2 linked regions of the Homo sapiens genome follow. The protein of the gene in region 1 binds, or shares a complex with, the protein of each later gene. Each region holds a gene or a part of one and is shown on either strand. Other genes may lie near its edges.

What was found.
Region 2: CALM3 (region 1) and KCMF1 share a complex: the UniProt entries of both Homo sapiens proteins name them as parts of the SIFI complex.

What each region holds. Positions count from the first base shown.
Region 1 is NC_000019.10:46,594,980-46,605,863, reverse strand, and holds the start of CALM3 (calmodulin-3), read right to left. Parts: upstream 4,535-10,884; 5' UTR 4,430-4,534; coding exon 4,427-4,429; intron 3,796-4,426; exon of another isoform or gene 3,657-3,795; coding exon of another isoform or gene 3,654-3,656; intron 3,268-3,653; exon of another isoform or gene 3,225-3,267; intron 38-3,224; coding exon 7-37; intron 1-6. UniProt on the Homo sapiens protein: Calmodulin acts as part of a calcium signal transduction pathway by mediating the control of a large number of enzymes, ion channels, aquaporins and other proteins through calcium-binding. Calcium-binding is required for the activation of calmodulin.
Region 2 is NC_000002.12:85,042,549-85,053,576, reverse strand, and holds part of KCMF1 (E3 ubiquitin-protein ligase KCMF1), read right to left. Parts: intron 10,014-11,028; coding exon 9,912-10,013; intron 7,474-9,911; coding exon 7,299-7,473; intron 4,212-7,298; coding exon 3,929-4,211; intron 430-3,928; coding exon 168-429; 3' UTR 1-167. UniProt on the Homo sapiens protein: E3 ubiquitin-protein ligase which accepts ubiquitin from an E2 ubiquitin-conjugating enzyme and then transfers it to targeted substrates, promoting their degradation by the proteasome.

The sequences.
Region 1 (10,884 bases):
ACTCACCTGCAATCTGCTCCTCAGTCAGCTGGTCAGCCTGTAAAAGCATGAAGGGGAAAGTCAGTCACCAGGCCGGACAGCACGGACGCATCTTCCTCACTCAGCCCAGACCCTCGGCCCCAGTGAGGCCAGCTCCACGTGCCATTCCCGCCGGGCCAGGGAGGAGCATGCCAGAGTCAGGGTCTGAGGCAGAGCCAGCGCCTGATGATAAAGTCTGGTGATTCAGAAAGCTGGGTACCAGGGTGGGCTGGACACTCAGGCCTGCTGGACGCACGGCCCGATGAAGCTGCCCAGACCCACGGGCTTCCAATCTCAACTCAGCATGTGGGAGCCACAGGGGCGGGAGAAAAGCCTGCCCCAGCCCCAAACCAGCAGCGCTGGTGAGGCCTGGCACAGGTTTGCATCTCATCAGTGAGAGCCCCAGAGGCCGAGTGAAGGGAACGATTGCCCTGGAGGCCTCATCAAGAAGCTCTAGAAGGCTCCAAACTGAAGCAGGCCAGTCCTTGGGTAGGGCAGAGGGACGATGTCTGGGGCTATCTCTGCTAGTTTCTGTGTCACCTATTTGGAGGCGGTTGGCTCAGGCAGAGTCCACCCAAGTGGCAAAAATTCTCCTAACCGGCGGCCCGAGTTGCTCAAGCACCTAAAGAACTCTGGTCAGGCTGGAGGCAGGCGCTCCACCCCCTGCGCACAGTGAGGGCACAGGGCCATTCTGTTTTGTTTCTTTTGGGCAGAAGGGACAAACGTCAGGGAGAGGGCTGCAGCGGGCAGCAGCAGAGGACTGAAGCTGGCTTGCACTGCAGTTTTTAACCCTTTCCAGCTTGGGCACTCTGGGGACTGGCCAGTGGGTGGCAGGCAGCCCTTGCTGCATGCGGGGTTTGGGGGTGGGGAGGAGATGCGGGGACTGGCTTCTCCTGCACTGGTGTGCTGGGCATCAGCCAGGCATAGTGATCCTATGGGGCAGGAGCGGGGCTGGGGGGTTGGGGAGGCTGAATCCCAACATTTAGCTTTAGCAGCCAAAAGACACATTTTCCCTGGTTTTTGTTGATGCTGTGAAGAAGGCACCACCATCCCGGGACCATGGTGGGTCTGTTCCCCTTCCTTTCACAATCAGGGAAAGGGGCTCCAAGTCTATAGCATGTTCTAGTCTCGAGTCTGAGAGCCTCAGAAATAGAAGCAGACTATTATGTGAATTTGCAGTATTCTACGGAGAGGTTCCAGAAGCTAGGAACAAACCACTGCCTGCCTCCCCTACCCCCATCCCCGTCCCAAATATTAACAATCACTGATCTAAAAAAGTTAGAAAAAAAAAAAAAAAACCTAACGGAAGAAGAACTTGCAAGCCCCAAATAGGCAGAATGGGAGGGGTAATCAAAATGATGATCACAGAGGGGAGAGGGCTTAGGGAGGGGGAAAGAGGAAGGGAGAAAACGGCACACATGCACATTCTGGAAAAGTCCAAAGTGTAAAGGGGAGGTGGGGAGGCCAAATGAAGATTCTTCTGCATTGCCTTCAAAAAAGACAGGGTGGTTGGGCTTCTAAATGCCAACCTGGTAGCCCCAGGCCCATGAGCCTCTTGATCCACCTGCCCCCCACCTCCCACCATGGACAAAAAAGCCTGGAGCCATCCCTTAGGTCCTGACACCTGAGGAAGAGGCTTAGGGAAAGTGAGAAGGGAGGATGGGCTTCTGGTTACCGAGACCAGGCAATGCCCAGGGAGGGTCAGGGAAAGAACAGAGAGGAGGGCAGCAGTGTGGGGAGGTGGCTGCCATCCCATCTGCTTTTCATTCTTTCCCCTGGCCTAGAATGGAAAAAGCGAGCCAGGTCAGGGCCTTCCCAGCCCACTGTTCCGCCCTGCAAGAAGTCCAGCTCCCCGGACCTTTGGGCAGCACTGTAAGGGGCTGGGGGTGGGGGCGAGGAGGCTGTGACAGGCTGCAGACTGCCCCGAGCGGCTCTGAAGGCCACCGTTTGCCAGTCTCCACCAAAAGACTGGAAGATGCAGATGAGGCACTGCCATGTTCAGTTCTGTCACAGGGTTGCTGCAAATAGGCGTGGCTCTGCATGGAGGGCCTGTCAGATGCTCTCCCTCCCATGTTGGAGACCCACTTCCCTGCTTGGTCAAGGAAAGGTACAGATCTCAAGCAAGGTTGCCGCCCAGAAAACCGACCGCCTAAGAAGATATCATTGATCCTTGCTCAAGGTTTCTTCCCTTTCTAGACCTGAAGACTAAACTTTCAACAAAAACTGTTTCCAAAATAACTCAGCTGGTCTCCTGCTTCCTTATCCCTCATCTTAGGCTCCAGCAAGGGGCTGGACAAGAAAAAAAACCATGAGGTGGGGGAGGGAAGAGGGTGTGATTTCTCTGCCTTGCCCCAGCCCCCAGCCAATGCCAGAGAGCAGTGTTAGATGAGATCAGAAACCAAGGCCAGGGCCCCTCACCCGGGCCAAGGAGGAGCCACAGAGCTCAGGCCAAAGTCCAAGGCCAGTTACCAGTGACTTGTCCCACCTCTACCTTGCTGATTACAAACAGAAAGAGAAACTAGTTGTGGCCAAAGCTTGGGTCCTATTCTGGAGGTAGGGGGCCTGCTAGTGCTTCAGGGCCCCTTTTAGCCAGGTTCTGCTGGGGGAAAATGGGGTAGCGGCAAGAGGAGCCATCAGGTCTGTGTCAGCAAGTATGAGATCTGATACACAGCAGCGGCTGCCTGTTCTCCCCAGCCTTGCCAGGGAGGATGGCTGCACACGGTTCCCAGGCTCAGCCTGGTGGGGCTGTGGGTGTTGTGGGTGGCAGGGAGTAGGAAAGAACTAGTCTGCTGGTTTTCTCTCAAAGCCCTGTGAATTAACAGACACGCTCAGCGAGGGCCCTGAATGGAACAAGTGGCCCTCAGGCCGATCAAGGGGTCTCCCCAGAGGCACTCTCTGATCAAGCTCTGCAGCCCCCACCCCGAGGGCACGGGAATAGGCATCTGATTGTCACTGACGCCACACTGTACTGCACTGTCATTTGGCACAAGTGACGAGGTGCAGCATGGTGCGTGGGGCTGGGGATCATGAGAAAACCGGCGCTCCTGCTGGGAAAAGGCAGTGCTCTTGGCCTGAAAAGGGCAGCGACAGAGTGAGGCTTCTAGGCTTGAAAAAGCTGGCTCATTCGAGGCACCCCAAACTTTGATCTCCCATCCCCATTTCATGAGGCTTCAGTGCGCAATAGGGGCCCGAACAGCTCCGCCCACCTGCTCCCACTGCCCCGGTGTCTTCCACCCAGCCGCGTTCTTCCTGAGGAAGGAGGACGGTAGAAAAGCTTCCTCCGGGCCCTGCAGCCCACTCCCCATCCACACTGAGCCGTCTTTGTCCTGGCCTGTCCCTGGAGACTGGCAGGGTGCTACCCACATCCACCCCCAAACCTAGGCCCCCCTGACTGCCATTCATTTTCTCCTTCCACCTCACCTCCCAACCACCCAAGCCCAAGTCCTCCCCCACCCCTCACCTTGGAAATCCATCTTCTCTTGGACCCAAACACAACACTCCCACCCCGTTAAAAAAATTCTGTCTTTCTAGAGCAACAGTCTTAACCCACTAGTAACCTCGGAACCTTTTCTAGCTACTTCCAAATTAACCCCAAGGGTCCCTGTCCCCCGACTACTGGCGAGCCCCACTCTCACCATCCCTTTTCACCACCTCCACGACCCTGATCCTTCTCCGTCCCGGAAGCCTTCAAGAGTATCTTCTAATCTCCGCTGCCACCCACCCCAGGCTCTTCCTCCCATAAGCTTGCACCTCACCCTCCTCCTCCTCTGCAGTGCTGGGCTCTGGAGACCACCCTCCCCCACCCTCCCCCACCCTCGGGAGTCTCATCTGTAGAAGTGACCGCCCATCCTTGACCCTCTCCTCTGCTCCACAGGAGCCCAGGGGTCGCCCCTCCCCGCCCGGGCCCAGCTACCCTCCACCACCCCATCCAGGAGCAGCCCAGCCTCCCTTCGTCCCCCGTTCCCCGCATCCTCTCAGGACCAAACGCCTTCATCAGGGCCCGAATAGCTCCCCTCCCCAGCCCATCTTTCTTATTTCGTCCCCTGGGGTCCAAACACCTCCATCCTGAAACCCAACGCCCCATCCTGGGTCCAAAATCCTTTTGAGGGGTCCCACTGAGGGTCCCGATCCTCCATCCGGGGTTCAAATGTCCCCTTTAGGGGCTCAGATACCCATTTGTGGACTTAAACATCCCATTTGGTGCTAAAGTCGCTTCTGGAAACCTCTGGTGATCCAGACGTCCCGCTCTGGGTTCAACAGCCCCCGACAACGCGGGTAGAAAAGGGTCCCGAGGCTCTCGCCGGGCCCGGACGCCCCCCACTCTGGGCTCTGTCGCCCCCTCAGGGGTCCTGCCCCGTTAAGCCCGCCTCAGAGCCCGCAGCCTCGGCGACCCCCCAGCCTCACTCACCATGGCGAGGCCCGGGGTGTCCGGAGCACGGGGATCAAGGTTCCTCCGGCGGCGGCAGCAGCTGCAGCAGTTCCAGCTCCGCCGCGCGTCCGCGCCTCCACACTCACTGCCCGCAGCGCGCGCCGCCGCCGCCGCCGCCTCCCGCCCCAACGGTCCCTCAACGGCCGCCGCGCGCGCCCCGCCTCGCTCGGCCCCGCCCCACCCGGCCCGCGCGCCGCCGCACTGCGGCTCCCACGGATCCCTCCGCGCCCCGCTCCACACCTACGGGCCCGCGAATCTCTCGTCCCCACCCTGCACAGGAATTGGGTTTGCCGCCGGGCGCGCGCGCGCTCGCTCCCGTCGCCGGACTACTTTCCCTCGCCGCGCGCCCCGCCTCCCGGGCCCACTTCACTTTCTTCGGCGGAGGGGCACAGCTCGGCGGTGCGTGACGCGTCCCTCTGTGAGCCGCGTCACTATTGGGCCTGGCCCATGGCGGAAATGAGAGCTTGGCGCCCATTGGTCCGACCTTCCCTGCAATGCGTCAAACTGGGGCGAGCCACTGCAAGGTGGTGGTGGGTAAGTCTGAACTCTGTGGCCGCGTGGGGCTTTGAGGAGTAACGAGGCGAAGGGGGAAACGGCGTCGCCGTTAGAGAAGCAAATACGTCGTTTCTGTGGCCAGGAGGTGGTAAAAAGGCTGGCGACAAATGCAGAAGGGCTTTCTCGGCTCTCCCCTTTAACCGACGGACGATGGTTCAATCCAAAATGCTAGGGTTTAGAAGCTCCGCCCCTAACTGGGCCTTTGGAGGTGGCGGGGTCTCCAAGGTGCCACCTAACGCTCAGAGGTTCCGCCCTCCGTGGTCTTGTCTCTGCGTCCTAAGACGCACTCAGCCGGTGGGCGGGACCCCTGGGCCCGCTTCATTCTTGATCCGCTCAGGGTCTGTGAAATTAGGACCATCCCAGGACAGCCTGTGGGAACGGGGTATTCATTCAGTCATTCGTGCTATAAGCATCAATTAGGCGCCTGCTGTATGCAGGGACCTGAGCTTGGCTGGGCTGGGGAGACCATACTCCCCAACCAGCCTCTCCAGACAGACGACCTCTTTCCTTATTCCAGTGTTCCAGCCATAGGAGGAAAAAGAACTGAAACTTTGTTTATAGGAGCTCAGAAAATGATCACCCCTGCCCCCTCCCCCGTTTAGGATAGGAGCTGACAGTCTCCTGCGTGTCCCCTCCCCACCATGTTGATGGTTAAGAGATGGGCAAACGAGTCAGGCTGGACCAATCATTATGCTCCACCTGGAACAGAATGGAGACTGAACCAATGAGAGTCCTTCCCTGGGGTTTGGATCTGCAGCCTGGGCACAAGAAGCCTTTTCCTTTTGGGTGGGTCCTTCCCATAGATTCTGACTATGGTCATTTTCCCACTCTGCCCCCTATCTTGAGGAACAAAGTGTCTAGAGAAGAAGAGAAAAATAAAACTGACACAGTGGAGAGGTAAAGAAGATGGCCGGGCGCGGTGGCTCATGCCTTTAATCCTAACACTTGTTACTCAGTCTCAAATCTCATGTTAAAATGTGATCACCAATGTTGGAGGTGGGGCCTGGTGGGAGGTGTTTGGGTCATAGGGGTGGATCCCTCATGAATGACTTGGTGCTGTCCTCACGGTAACAAGTGAGTTCTTATTCTGTTAGTTCACACAAGATCTGTATTTTTTTTGAGACGGAGTCTTGCTCTGTCACATAGGCTAGAGTGCAGTGGCATGATCTTGGCTCACTACAACCTCCGCCTCCCAGGTTTAAGCGATTCTCCTGCCTCAGCCTCCCAAGTAGTTGGGACTACAGGCACCCACCACTACACTTGGCTAATTTTTGTATTTTTAGTAAAGACAGGGTTTCACCATGTTGGCCAGGCTGGTCTCAAACTCTTGAGCTCAAGTGATCCGCCTGCCTTGGCCTCCCAAAGTGCTGTAATCACAAGAATACAACCATCAGGAGTGCCTCAAGGGAGAAATATCCTCTGAGAATAGCCACAGACAAAGTGGGGAGGTGGGACTACCATCCCCAGCCCTGGAAACTCTCTCTACTCTATAACTTGGCCAAAGGAGATGCCAAATCAGAGTGGCTGTTCGTTAGCACCATGCTGTGGGAGGTTTCTTCCATAGCTCCCCTGGGAATGAACCCCTAGCCAGCTTTCCTATGCTACTGGGATATCCCCTTTGGGACCTCCCCCATTCGGGATGGGAGACGCTCTGATCTTTAATAGAGCCAAGGCAAACCTGGTTTTAAGGTGCCACTGAGTGCTAAAAAGGAGGCAGCAACCTAGCAGAAAAAAAGAAACCAACAGGTCAATTACGAAGAATCTGTAAGCAAATGGAGCCAGTAAAAGCCAAAACAAGCCAGACGGAGAAGGCTGGAATAAGTGACTAATCCTTCAGTGCAAAGGCATAGATGTACATTAACAACAAACCAAAGCAAACAGGGAACCATGAGCTCCCCAAATGGACCAAGTAAGGGACCAGTGACTAAACCTAACAAGACAGTAATATGTGAGCTTTCTAAGAATTCAAAATGGCATTTTTAAGGAAACTCAGTGAATTCCAAGACGACATAGAAAAGCAACGCAGAAATTTATCAGTGAAATTTAACAAAGAGATTGAAATAATAATTTAAAAAAAACCCAAACAAATCTTAGAACTGAGAAATACATTTGCTGAACTGAAAAGTTCATTAGAGGTTCTCAACAGCAGAGTGGGTCAAGCAGAGGAAACAATCAGTGAACTTGGAGACGGGCTGTTTGTAAATACATACAGAAGAAAAAAGAAAAAAGAATGAAAGGAATGGAAATCACCTACGAAATATAGAAGACAAAATCTAAGAATTATTGGTGTTCAAGAGGGAGCTGAGGAGGAGCAAGGGGATAGAAAGGATATTCAAAGAAACAATGGAAGACATTCAAAAATTGCAAATATCCAGGTACAGAAAGGCCAGAGAACACCAAATAGATTTGATTACCCCAAGGCATATAATAATCAAACTCTCAAAGGTCAAGAACAAAGAGAGGATCCTAGAAACAGTAAGAGAAAAGAAGGAAATAACACTTAAAAGAGCTCTAATTTACCTGGCCACAGACTTCTCAATCAAAACCATGAAGGCCATACAAGAATACTGTATCAAGCAAAGCTATTATTCAAATATGAAGAAGAGATAAAGTTTTTCCCAAATAAAAGCAGAGAGAATTCACCACTACCAGATCTGTATTATAAGAAATGCTCTCTTGAAGAAAGACAGTTCCAGAGAGTTCCTCAATCCGGAAAAAAAAAAAACCATGCAAAAAGAAAAAAAATTTTTTTTGAGACACGATCTTGCTCTATCACCCAGGATGGAGTGCAGTGGCCCAATCATAGCTTACTGCAGCCTCAAACTGCCAGGCTCCAGTGATCCTCCCACCTCAGCCTCCTGAGTAGCTGGGACTACAGGTGCACACCACCATGCCTGGCTAATTTTTGTATTTTCTTTCTGGTAGAGATGGGGTTTTGCCATGTTGCCCAGGCTGGTCTCGAATTCCTGAGCTCAAGCAGTCTTCCCCCATTGGCCTCCTAAAGTGTTGGGATTACAGGTGTGAGCCATCATTCCTGGCCAAAGAAAATATTTGAAGGTATAAAACCCATTGGTAAAATTAGGTGCACAGAGAAACCCAGGATACTCCAATACTGTAATTGTGGTATGCAATTCATTCTTAACTCTACCATAAAGCCTCAAAGACAAATCTATCAAAAACAATAATATTGAGCTGGGTGTAGTCTCAGCTACTTGGGAGGCTGAGGCAGGAGGATCACTTGAACCTAGGAGTTTGAGGCCAGTCTGAGCAACACAGTAAGACCCCATAATTAAAACAATAATAGCTATAGCAGCTTGTTAAAAGACAAGCAAAATAAAAATATGTAAATTGAGGAAACAAAAAGTCAAAATGTGGGAGGGAAGGAGATAAAGTGTGGAGTTTTTATTCATTGTTTCTATTTTTTTCTTTGTGATCTAAGATGTTATCGCTTTAAAATAACTTGTTATAAGATTTTTTTTAGAAGCCTCAAGGTAACCACAATGCAAAAACCTATAATAGATTCAATAAAAATAAAAAGTAGCAAGTTAAAACGTACTACCAGAGAAAATCACTTAACCACAAAGGAAGACAGTAAGAAAGGAAAAAAGGGGGCCAGGCACGGTGGCCCACACCTATAATCCCAGCACTTTGGGAGGCTGAAGCAGGCGGATCACCTGAGGTCGGGAGTTCGAGATCAGCCTGACTAACATAGAGAAACCGCTTCTCTACTAAAAATACAAAAAATTAGCCGGGCGTGGTGGCACATGCCTGTAATTCCAGCTACTCGGGAGACTGAGGCAGGAGAATCGCTTGAACCTGGGAGGCGGAGGTTGTGGTGAGCCGAGATTGTGCCATTGCACTCCAGCCTGGGCAATAAAAATGAAACTTCATCTCAAAAAAAAACAAAAAACAAAAAACTTGTTATAAGATTTTTTTATAAGCCTTAAGGTAACCACAATGCAAAAACCTATAATAGATTCAATAAAAATAAAAAGTAACAAGTTAAAACATACTACCAGAGAAAATCACTTAACCACAAAGGAAGACAGTAAGAAAGAAAAAAAGGGGGCCAGGCATGGTGGTTCACGCCTGTAATCCCAGAACTATGGGAGGCCGAGGGAGGCGGATCACTTGAGGTCAAGAGTTCGAGATCCACTTGGCCAACGTGGCAAAACCCCGTCTCTACTAAAAATACAAAAATTAGGTGAGTGTGGTGGTGGGTGCCTGTAGTCCCAGCTACTCGGGAGGCTGATGCAGGAGAATTGCTTGAACCCGGGAGGCAGAGGTTGCAGTGAGTCGAGATCGCGCCACTGCAGTCATGACTGGGCGACAGAGCAAGACTCTGTCTCAAAAAAAAAAAAAAGAAGGAAGAAAACAACCAGAAAATAAGCAACAAAATAGCAGTAGTAAGTCCTTACTTATCAATAATAACATGAATGTTAAGGAAATAAATTATCCAATTAAAAGGCATAAAGTGGCTGAATGGATAAAGAATAAGACCCAGGCCAGGCATGGTGGCTCATGCCTGTAATCCAAGCACTTTGGGAGGCCAAGGCAGGAAGATTGCTTGAGCTCAGGAGTTGGAGACCAGCCTGGGCAACATAGTGAACCTCGTCTCTACCAAAAAAAAAAAAAAAAAAATTTGCTGGGCGTGGTGGCTGGCGTGCACTTGTATTCCTGACTACTCAGGAGGCTGATGTGGGAGGATCACTTGATACTGGGAGGCGGAGATAGCAGTGAGCCGAGATTTCCCCACTGTACTCCAGCCTGGGCCACAAACCTTGTCTCGAAAGAAAAAAGAAAAAAGGCCCAACTCTATGCTGTCTACAAGAAACCCAGTTCACCTATAAAGACACACTTAGACTGAAAGTGAAGAGTTAGAGAAAGATATTCCGTGCAACTGGAAACCAAAAAAAAAAAAAAAAAAAAAAGCAGGGGTAGCTATACTTGGTATCTATATATGGTATCAGATAAAAGAGACTACAATTCCAAGCTTGTGAAAAGAAACAGAGCAGGTCACTGTACAATGATAAAGGGGTATATTCAGTGAGAGGATAACACAGTTGGTTTTTTTTTTTTTTTTGAGATAGAATCTCGCTCTGTTGCCCAGGCTGGAGTGCAGTGGTGCGATCTTGGCTCCCTGCAGCCTGGTTCAAGCGATTCTCCTGCCTCAGCCCCCGAGTAGCTGGGACTATAGGTGCTTGCCACCACGCCTGGCTATTTTTGTATTTTTAGTAGAGACAGGGTTTCACTGTGTTGACCAGGCTGGTCTTGAACTCCTGACCCCAAGTGATCCACCCACCTCAGCCTCCCAAAGTGCTGGAATTACAGGCATGAGCCATTGAGCCCGGCCTGTTTAATTTTTGTATATGGTGAGAGCTACAGCTCTAGTTTCATTCTTCTACGTACAGTTTTCCGATTTTCTCAGCACCATTTATTGAAGAGATTGTTCTCCCCCCATTGTATGTTGTTGGTGCCTTTGCTGACAATGAGTTGGCTGTAAATGTGTGGATTTATATCTGGGTTTTCTATTCTGCTCCAGTGGTCTACATGTCTGTCTTTATGCCAGTATCATGCTGATTTGGTTACCATAGCTTTGTCGTCTATTTTGAAGTCACGTAGTGTGATGCCTTTAGCTTTGTTCTTTTTGTTCAGGATTGCTTTGGCTATTTTGGGGTCTTTCGTGGTTCTGTGTAAATTTTAGCATTGTTTTTTCTATTTCTGTGAAGAATGTCGCCGGTATTTTGATAGGGATTGCACTGGATCTGCAAATTCCTTTGGGCAGTATTGTCATTTTAACAAAATTAATTCTTCTAAACCATGAGCATGAAATATCTTTCAATTTTTTGTGTATGTCCTCTTCAGCTTCTTTCATTAGTGTT
Region 2 (11,028 bases), on another chromosome or scaffold:
AGTGGAAATGATTATCATATATATTTTCTCTCTTCCTTTTGAATGTACACAATGTAACAAGAGTGACAGACCTGAAATTACAATCACCAAACAAACCCAAGATAGTTGTTGTCCACTTTCATTGGCAAATACAGCACAGAGGACATTGTCTGCGAATTGGGATGTCATCAAAGAGGAGGTGGTGGAGGCTCATTTCCTTTATTACTCTCTTTTAAATTTAGGTTTTCTAAAGCAACATCTAAAGGCATAATATCTACACAGCCCATAGCACCAAAATCTGCCATCTCCCCCCGATCATCCTCATCTGAGGATGAGCTCTCTTCACGCACTAAAGTGGACAGAAGGAGCTCTTGGACAAACAGGCTGCGGTCTGCACGCTCGCTTTCCATGGACTGGCGCTCCGTTTCAGACATTTTAGGATCATTCAACCTGTGTAAGTTAAAAAGAAAAGACCTTATTGTTAAAAAGTCAATGAACAATGGCATGGCCAATTTCTACAGTGCTCTCCACTGTGAAGTTTTACAGGTGGCAAAATTCAGAATGAGACATTGCTGGAATACTTGGCTGTAATTTATCCTTAATTGTGTTGAGACGAATTCCCCACACTTGTTGCAATACTGTTACCTGGAGGTGCAAATCTATGCTTTAATTAGACTCAATGAGAAAAAAAAAGACATTTAGACTTTTTCCACTCCAGAGAAAGCTAGGTGAAAATTTTCTAAGGAAAACAGGATTTCTTACAGATTAGATGCTTGGGAAAGTATCTAACCAGAATTTCATCTGGGGGTAAATAAAAAGAGGAAAATAAAACACAAAAACAAAATCTGCAGTGAACAGAATATTCAACTGAAAAATATCCTAAGATTTCCTCTGACTTTTCTCTATTACTCTATTTAATTCTTCTTGGTATATGCAGAAGCTAGAAAGGGCAAGAAAACACATACATACAAACTCCTACATTTCTTCTACCAAGGACCTACAGTGTAGCAGGGCAGACACAAGGTCTACCTGCCTGACTTGCTCCCCTGATGCATGTACTTATGAGATCTGGGCTATGCTGGGAAACCTGGCTCATCTGCACAGAGACTAGACAAATTTCTTGATGAAATATAACATTTAGGATATAAATGAAACTGCAAGGCTTGTGAGGATCTTCAAGTTGGGGTTAGCAAAATGAACTGGTCCCACTGTCAAAAGATTAGATCTGGCCAGGCACGGTGGCTCATGACTGTAATCCCAGCACTTTGGGAGGCCAAGGCGGGCGGATCACCTGAGGTCAGGAGTTTGAGACCAGCCTGGCTAATGTGGTGAAACCCCATTTCTACTAAAAATACAAAAAATTAGCCAGGTGTGGGGGTGCGTGCCTATAATCCCAGCTACTCGGGAGGCTGAAGTAGGAGAATCGCTTAAACCTGGGAGGCGGTGGTTGCAGTGAGCCGAGATCGTGCCATTGCACTCCAGCTTGGGCAACAAGAGCGAAATTCTATCTCAAAAAAAGACCGATCTGACTTACACACTCCAATAATCACTTTCTAAAAGGTCAACTATCTTGGACTTCAAAGAAACTGTGACCTTACCATCAGTTGCAGGGCAACATGAATAGGAACTGCCCCTGGTCAAAGAAAAGACCAAAAATAAGGCTTGGGCCCTATATATATCACATAAGAGCTGTGTGACCAGAGAGCAGGATCTCCCCTGCATACACTGCAGCCGTTCTCCTTGCCTTGAAAATTCACAATGCATGTTAATATATTTGAAGTTCTAAGAAGCCCAACAGTAAATAATCTCTTAATTTTCCTTACTTTGCTTTCTGCAACCTTATTAATTGGGGGTGGAAGAACATAAGTAATTACATATATTCCTTTGAATATATGAAGTTAAGAGAGTATTTCTGGGGAAATATTGCCTTAAATAAATCATATGAATATAATACAATAAAAGATGTGGAAAGTGGTTTGCAAACTGCATGGTACCATAGAATGTACAGTATCAGATGATAGAAGGGGGATTTCAAGAAGCTACAACCAGAATCCACAGACAGCACTCAGAGGTCACTCATACCATGCTCTGAGAGTTGGGTGTGGAATAAATGCACAGAAAAAAATTACAGATCAAGCTGAGTAGTTTGGGTCTTAAAAAAAAAAAGGATAGGGCAAGGGTGGGTAGGAAGATGTCTTTTCCAAAGGGCACTGGCAAGACATTCCACCCACAGTTCTGTGAACTCTCAGTAGAAATGCACGCTAGTAGATCTCCTTTTTGAGGTAGGGACTTAGATCTGGTATGTTATAGACCTGCTGCTGGTCAGTCCCTATGGGGAAGGCTACATGGCAGCAGGTAGCTCCATCTGTGGCTCTGTGGTTTTCTTACATTAAAGCAGCATTATCTGGTAATAACCAGGCACAGTTACTGACCTTGCAGAGATAATTCAAAGGTAAATTACCCATTTAAAATGTTTTTCTTGGTTTCATAACAAATGTTGATAACGAGTACCATTAATTGGACCTTTACTATAGGCCAGATAGTGAGCCAGACCATACACATACCAGTATTCCATTTAATCCTCAAAATAATTATCTCTCTAAAGGCAAAACTTCTGGGATACTGATGATAAAATTGAGGTTTGGAGGAGTGAAATGACTTGCCTGAGGTCCAAAACTTGTAATTGGCAAAGCTGGGGCTCTAGCCCAGGGATTTTCAAGCATTTTTTATTCTGCACCCACAATATGTTATTTATAACTATACACATGCACCACTGTATTAACAGAGTATGAGATAAAAGAAACATAAGTAGAAATTATAATATTTTCCTCTAACATCCCAATGAATTGTCATACACACTGCATTTTGGAAATAATCATGTATTACACAAACTTTATTCTTCATTTTACAGTTCTTCCTTTATGTTCCTCTCTGCTCCCTTAAAAGCCCAATTAGTCCAGGTTCATTATCTGTTGAGGCTAAGTCTCCACTCATCATTGCTCTTTTAAGAATTCTTTATATTCCTAAAAGTCACATAAAATGCCTGTGAAGTTTTGGCAGACAAATACATGCAGTTGCTAACAGTTTCAGAAGCAAACAAGAACTCCATCTAGTAGAGTAGTTTACTGTTTTACTAAATATTATTTATACCATAGGAAGCCATTTTTTTAAGTTACTTTTGTGTGCCAACCATAAAAATTTAAATCTAGCTTTTTTAGAAATTCACAGGAGAAAACTGCCACTGTATTATGAAATCCTTCTTATACTTTTAATATTTCAAAGCAGATTAAAACTGGCAATAACAAGCAACGTTAATTATGATAAATACACCTAATATGAACCATATATATATAATGATATAGTGTTTAAGTTTTATGGGTACTATGGCAAAACAATTCATATTATATGATGATATATACCTTGAGAACAAGACCAGTTATTTTATTTTAGAGACAGGGTCTCACTCTTGTCACCCAGGCTGGAGTGCATGGTGCAATCTTGGCTACTGCAACCTCTGTCTCCAGGGCTCAAGCGATCCTCCCACCTCAGCCTCCTGAGTAGCGGGGACTACAGGTGCGCACCATCACACCTGGCTCATTTTTGTAGAGATAAGATTTCATCATGTTACCCAGGGTGGTTTGGAACTCCTGGGCTCTGGCGATCTGCTTGCCTTGGCCTCCCAAAGTGCTGGGATTACAGGTGTGAGGTGCTGGGATTACAGGTGTGAGCCACTGGGTCTGGCCCAGTATTCTTAATTTATCTAAAATAATTACTATGTTTCACATTCTTGGGGAAATACTGAATATGCGTTTTAATCAGAGATCTGTGAGTTTTAATCAAACACAAAATTTTAAAGAAATATAATGCACAAAAGAGAAAAGATAATTCCAGACTGTAGTGGCAATAAAATATTACTTCCCAAACAAAATTCTATTAACAAATGAGCTACCTTGTTAAAAGAAACTGGGAATTCTGTAGAGTCTGCTGACTGCTTTCTGTATTAGCTATGTTGGTTGTTGCTGTGGATTGTGTGATTGTAGTGGTGACACTGCTTGTGTTAGTACGCCGGGTTGCGTTGCGTGCGGTCTCCAGTTGTTGCCGTGCTGCCTGGGCATGCTGCCGTTCTAGCTGCAGCTGCATCTGCAGTTGTTGTAACTGAGAAGCGGAAGGGCCAGAGGAATTAAGCTGTCCTCCTGCAGAACGTCTCACTCCTGATAACTGAGATAAAAGCTCTGCCAATGGAAATGAAGACAATTAATGTCTGCTTAATACTGAGGAAAACAAAACGCTACAGATCACTCTTTTACTGGAACAACATCAAAAGCATTGTGAACAGGTAGGTAACCACCACAGCACACAGTTTAAGAGCTGAATCCTTCTAGAATGCCTCCTGAAGGCAGGAGTTACTGTGGACAGAGAATGCAAATGCATACGAATATTAACCCAGACTGAATTATGTTTGAAGTAAAACTTAAATTGTCTTTAAAATTATTTGCATAATAGACTAATTTAGTGAAGCTTTCTCTTAGTATTTAATGAAGTGGTTTATCTGTGGGCCCAATTATAATATAAGCTCTCTCAATATGTGTTCCATGGAAGCAGGGATGAGGTCTACTGTTGACTATATTCCCAGCTATCAGAACAGGGCCTGATATAGCAGGAATTCAAACATTTACTGAATGACTGAATGAATTATTAGGATTCAGTCCAAGAGGCCTGGATCATTTCTGATGGTGGCCCTTGCACACTCTCTGCCTCTGCTTTCTCCCTCTAGTACCTTCTGGTACTGCTGTTTCAGAGTACCACTGCAGTAGATACCACTACCAGTGCTCAGCAAGGCTGACTGGCTCCTGAGAACCTGCTGCATCTGACTGTACAGCCTACTTAGTGGCCTGTTATGATCCAGACTGTCTTGTGTCCATAAGGCTGTACTCATTAAGAGAGGTGTAAACTTTTGTCCCCGCATCCTCATCTAAGTAAGGTACAGTGAAATGCCTTCTTCCAAGTGGAGGGTCCACCTCGCTTATAGGGAATCGATGACTGCCTTGCAGACACTTTCAGGCCAGCAAAAACTCTTTATCATTAAAACTCATTAACAGTTTGTTTTCTTGCTCACTGTTGCTTTATCCCAGGCTTTTTATAGCACTCTTATACCACTCTTTCATGGAATATACAGTCTATCACTAAAATAAACTAATTTTCACTGACAGAAAAAAAATCAAATGAAGAAAATTTCTCAATTTTGAATTTTGCTCCCAGAAACTACTTTAATTTTTAGTGCCTGCCACCAAAATAGCAGGTAAATATTCCCTTTGGATGAAGAAATATTTTTTAAATCCCCCAAACTCAGTTTATTAGGCTTGTTTTTGTTGTTGCACACACAAATGTCCAAAGCACATTTGGAATTAAAATTTTATATGGTATATCTAACTTTTAAATAACATGATAGGTATAAAATTGTTCTTAGGTTGTTTTTCTTTTTTAAATTTTTATTTTAGGTTTGGGGGTACATGTGAAGGTCCGTTACACAGTTAAACACCTGCCACGAGGGTTTGTCATACATATTATTACATCACCCAGGACCCAATTAAGCCCAGTACCCAACAGTTATCTTTCTGCTCCTCTCTCTCTTGCTACCCTCCCCCAGTGTCTGCTGTCTCCTCCTTTGTGTTCCTAAGTTGTCATTTAGCTCTGATGTTCTCAGTTTCTATTACAGATTTACACTTATCAATGTTTCAGGTGTTCTGCAGGGTGCTCATGGCTTCCAGGTAGGTGCACACTTCACCACATGGACACATTTCAGAATTGTTGCTTTAAATGTGTGCACACTTCCCACTGTCTTACCACTTGTCTGCTTGGTGTGTCTTGCAGATTATCAGGCTACAGTGATTTCTTGTATTTTATTTTGACCCTGTGTTCTGCTACCAACTTCCTAGGTTTGTCATGTACTAGACTCAGTGACATGGCCAGGTTCAAAAACTGTGTTTTTTTTTTTTTTTTTAAGATTTTTCCCAAGCTATTAAACATGTACCTTTCAGTATGTTCTACAACAATATAGTTCTCAAATCAAGGTCAGGACATTAAGTCCTACTTTCCTTTCTTCCATGAGAAGAGCTTAATTCTTTAGTCTTTTCAATTAGCTATAGATAACAGTTCTGAAATGTGTCCATGTGGTGGAATGTGTACCTGGAAGCCATGAGGCGCCTTGCACAACATCTGAGATAGGCATAAATCTGTGACAGAATTTTACACATAACATGTTCTTAAAAATGTTAGCTATACCTTATAAAACCTTAATTTCAAATGTGCTTTGGACATTTTTTTATGTGTACTTATGGAGATTTAACCATGACATTTTGGAGGTATTCAAGTTGAAATCTTTTATGATTTCCTTGGGCTTCAATAGAGGCCACAAATACAACATAAAACCATTTCTTATCATCTTTTGTCTCTAAGAACAGTAGTCTCCCTTTACCTGCAGGAGATACGTTCCAAAACCCCCAGTGAATGGCTGAAATGGGCATTTGGATAATACAGAACCCTATACATACTATGTTTTTTCCTATACATACTTATCTGTTGTGCTAAAGTTTAATTTATAAATTAGGCACCTAATTTATAAATTAGGAACATGAGATTCCCAACAAAATAGAGTAAATCTAAAAATATACTATGAAAGTTATGTGATGTGGTCTCTCTCTAAGTATCTTATTGTCCTGTACTCACCTATTTTTTGACTGTAGTTGGTTGTGGGTAACTGAAACCCAGGAAAGCAAAACCACATGACGGGGGGACTACTGGACTTAAGCAATGCCAGAAGAGTATGAATTACTTTATGTTAAGTGTCTGCTTTTAACACATTTTACACTTTTAATGTATTTGGGAATTTTGTGAAGGAACATGGCTTATGATCAGAGAGGTGAGACTTAAGAACACAAATCTCACAAAAAGTTTTTTTTTTTTTTTTTGAGACAGGGTCTCACTCCATCACCCAGGCTGGACTGCAGTGGTGCGATCTCGGCTCCCTGGAACCTCCACCTTTCAGGCTCAAGCGATTCTCATGCCTCAGCATCCAGAGTAGCTGCGATTACAGGCACCCACCACCAAATCTGGCTAATTTTTTTATTTTTAGTAGAGATGGAGTTTTGCCATGTTGGCCAGGCTGGTCTTGAATTCCTGGCCTCAAGTGATCCACCCGCTCCAGCCTCCCAGAGTGCTGGGATTAAAGGTGTGAGCCACCGCACCTGGCATCACAAAAAGTTTTAAAAGGAGCTCCTCCTTCCCCTGCCATTTCCCTTATTAATGTGAAACTAACTTACCAGCTATAGGATCCATGGCTTCCCTATTGCTTGGAGAATATGAACTCTGAGAAGAAGAAAGTCCACCAGTAGAACTGCTAGTAAAGTGCATGTTTGATCTACGAGCACGAGGACCTCCTAATCCCCGGCCAGGGTGAAACATTCTACGTACATGTCGAACACCACTCGATTCATCATAACCCAAAAGTTAAGAAAAAAACGAAAGTATTTCACAGAAAGAAAAAAAATCACCTGAGTCCTTGCTAGACAGATGTAAAGATTTCCTGAATTGTAAGCATTTAAAAACAGCACATTTAACTTAAAGTGCAAATGTCCCAACTCTATCTATGAGGGCTATTAACCCTAAAAAGACACTCAAATGTAAGGCAACATGTGAGTGTGTGTGTGTGTATTGGGTGTGTGAGGTAAAAAAGTTTCTCTATATAGCTCATGAAATCTCAAATACCACCTATAATGAAAAAGGAACAATACTGAATGTATATTCAGCACATCAAAGGTTCCTTTTGGATTATTAGTTTTACTCTGTCTTCAAGCTTCTTTCCAATGCCGCTGCTAAGCAGAAAACAGATTTGCATTTCTTGTATAAGACACACAGATAGATTAACATGACATTTATCACGAAGAAAAATTCCCAGCAGCCTCAACCGTCTTACACAGCTGAGTGTAAGTCAAACTGAAAAAGGTCCTGAGTTGCAAATAGCTGTCAAAACTCATGAAGACAACCTTACGTTTCCACAAAGGCAAATGAGAGGTGGGGGAGGCCAGATCATATAGAAGAGATTTTTCCTTTAAAGTACCAAACAGACCAGCTTTATAATGCAGATTAATTTTTTGGCTGGCTTCTCAGTTTTTCAGCTGATGGTTCTGGAGTTATTTAAGGACCGGATGGGTAGCTCCAAGAGGCCTTCAGGTGTCACGGTACATGCCCTGTTCCATCATATTCATGAGGATGGTTTGGGTTCTAGAGAAAGTGATATGATCATATTTATATATTTGATAATTTTATATTATGATTATATATACATATATATATGTATCTTGAGACAGGGTCTCACTTTGTTGCCAGGCTGGAGTGCAGTGGTGCAATCATAGCTTACTGCAGCCTTGAGCTCATGGGCTCAAGTGATCCTCCTACCTCAGCCTCTTGAGTAGCTGGGACCACAGGTGTGTGCCACCAGCTGAGCTCATTATTTTGGTAGAGATGGGGTCTTCCTATGTTGTCCAGGTTGGTTTCAAACTTCTAGGCTCAAGTGATCCTCCCACCTTGGCCTTTCAAAGTGCTGGGAGTATAGGCATGAGCCACTGTACCCAGCTGGTGACAGTTTTAGACGAACAATTCATAACCTGAAATCAGAAGCATTGAGTCCACAAAATTAATCGCTCTGGTAGGCCAGTAATCTCAGGGAACACTGCCAGAAACTGTTGAGAGACAAGGAAGGGAATGCAGAAATAAAAGCAAGAGGCTGGGCGTGGTGGCTCACGCCTGAATCCCAGCACTTTGGGAAGCTGAGGTGGGCAGATCACCTGAGGTCAGGAGTTCGAGACCAGCCTGGCCAACATGGTGAAACCCCATCTCTACTAAAAAAATACAAAAATTGGCCAGGCGCAGTGGTTCATGCCTGTAATCCCAGCACTTTGGGAGGCTGAGGCAGGCAGTCAGGAGTTCAAGACCAGCATGGCCAAGAGACCAGCCTGGCCAATATGGTGAAACCCCATCTCTACTAAAAATACAAAAATTAGCTGGGTGTGGTGGCGGGCACCTGTAATCTTAGCTACTTGGGAGGCTGAGGCAGGAGAATTACTTGAATCCAGGAGGTGGAGGTTGCAATAAGCTGAAGATAGCACCATTGTACTCCAGCCTGGCTGACAGAGCAAGACTCCGACTTTTAAAAAAAAAAGAAAAGAAAAGAAAAGCAGGAAAGGAAATTTAAAGCTAGAGCTGACCTTATGCTATCCTACTCAGGAACTCGGCAGGAAATGGCTCTCTCTGGAGAAGGGGACCCCAAAAAGGAAAGGAACACCAAGATGCACACCTGTCCCCACCATCTCACCACACCACACCCACAACAGGGTAAGGCAGCAGAGGAACAGAGAGGGAAAGCAAATAATGCCTCTTCATATTTAACTAATTAAATTTTAATTTGGATTAACATTTTCCTCTTTTGTATGAAAACGCCATCCTGGAAGACACAATTTGGTCAAACTGCCTTAAAAAAAATCTAATTGTAATGAACTAAAGATGAAGGACAAGTCAACTTTCACTTAATGAAAATGGTTCATACAATGGTGATAGTATATAAAAAGAGAAATAAATTGCATCTCAGCACTGAGTCACTTTTAGGAAAAGTTCAAATAAGTAAAAATAATTTGGACATTACTTTTCCTCTTTTGGGGGATATGATCCTTAAAAAAAATCAAAATGACAAGCTGGATGCAGTGGCACATGTGTGCCTATAGTCCCAGCTACTCAAGAGGCTGAAGCAGGAGGATCACTTGAGCTCAGGAGTTTGAGACCAGCCAGGTCGACACAGCGAGATCTTGTCTCCAAAACAAAAAATCAAAATGACAAACATTACAAACAACTCTTTTCCTTGTCATCTCTTAAAAGGATATTAAATCTCTAGGGGCTCTGTGTTCAAGTGTAAGATGAGCTGCAAAGTCATCCGTGACATGATTAGGATCGCCTCCAGGTAACGCTGCACATATTGGACAAATCTGAAATGGAAGTAAAGAAAGCAGCTTAATAAATGAACGTCAATAAGACATCTTTCTGGACGAGTATTCTGCTGTAAGTTTTACTATTATCAAGTTTTAACCAACAGAAAACACAGCAGATCCTAAATCAGTGAAAAGCAGTAGAAACCTAAGCAAGAACTGTTCACACAAGGTCCCTCAGGGTCAAACACAACAGTTTCAGACACACCAAACTTGATCTCTGGCAGGGCCTTCTAACAGCCTGCCTGATTCATTTGTATGGTCTAGCAAAATAGTTTCCATTAAAAAAAACTTTAAAATGTGCTATTTAGTGCACATTTACGTGTAAGTCCAGTCTTGAATGGTAAAGACAGATACAAGCCTATGGCACACTTCTCCAAAGCAAGCTATACTTGAGAGCCAATTCCCAAATAAGACAGCAGAGATCTGATTAAATGCAACTGTGCAAACATTCAACAGACATGTTGAATGTAAGACAAATTATGATTACTGATAATATGCAAATGTGGTCTATAAATTTATGAATGTGACTTCCAAGGGGAATATGGTATGGAAGCCCATTTTTAAACCTTATTTCCTGAAGAAATGGGGTGGTAGGCCAGAAGCTTGTAACCAGGTCAGGCTCAAGGAGTAGTAGAACAACTTTCCATGGGCCTCTTGGCAAGAGATGGGAGAAAGTAGGAATAAAATGGTGTGTACACAGTCACAGTTCGGGGAGCGGGTGACAGGTTGGGAAGGTGGTTTCTATAGTTAACAGAATTGGTGAAACAGAGGGAAGGAGAGGGGAAGGCTAGAAAGAATGAGGAACGTTTTAAAGAGGAAAGGCCCTTACTCTTCCGAAATTCAAATGGACAGATAATGTTCTAACAATGGTAGCCAAGCCTTGAAGTATGAACAACTTCAATCTTAAAGAACAGGGCCAAGAAGAAAGGTCTGAAGCAAGGGGCATGACCAAAAGGAGCCCCAGGAAGTGCACAGTTCAAGTTGTAGACTTGTGTCTTTATCCATAAATAAG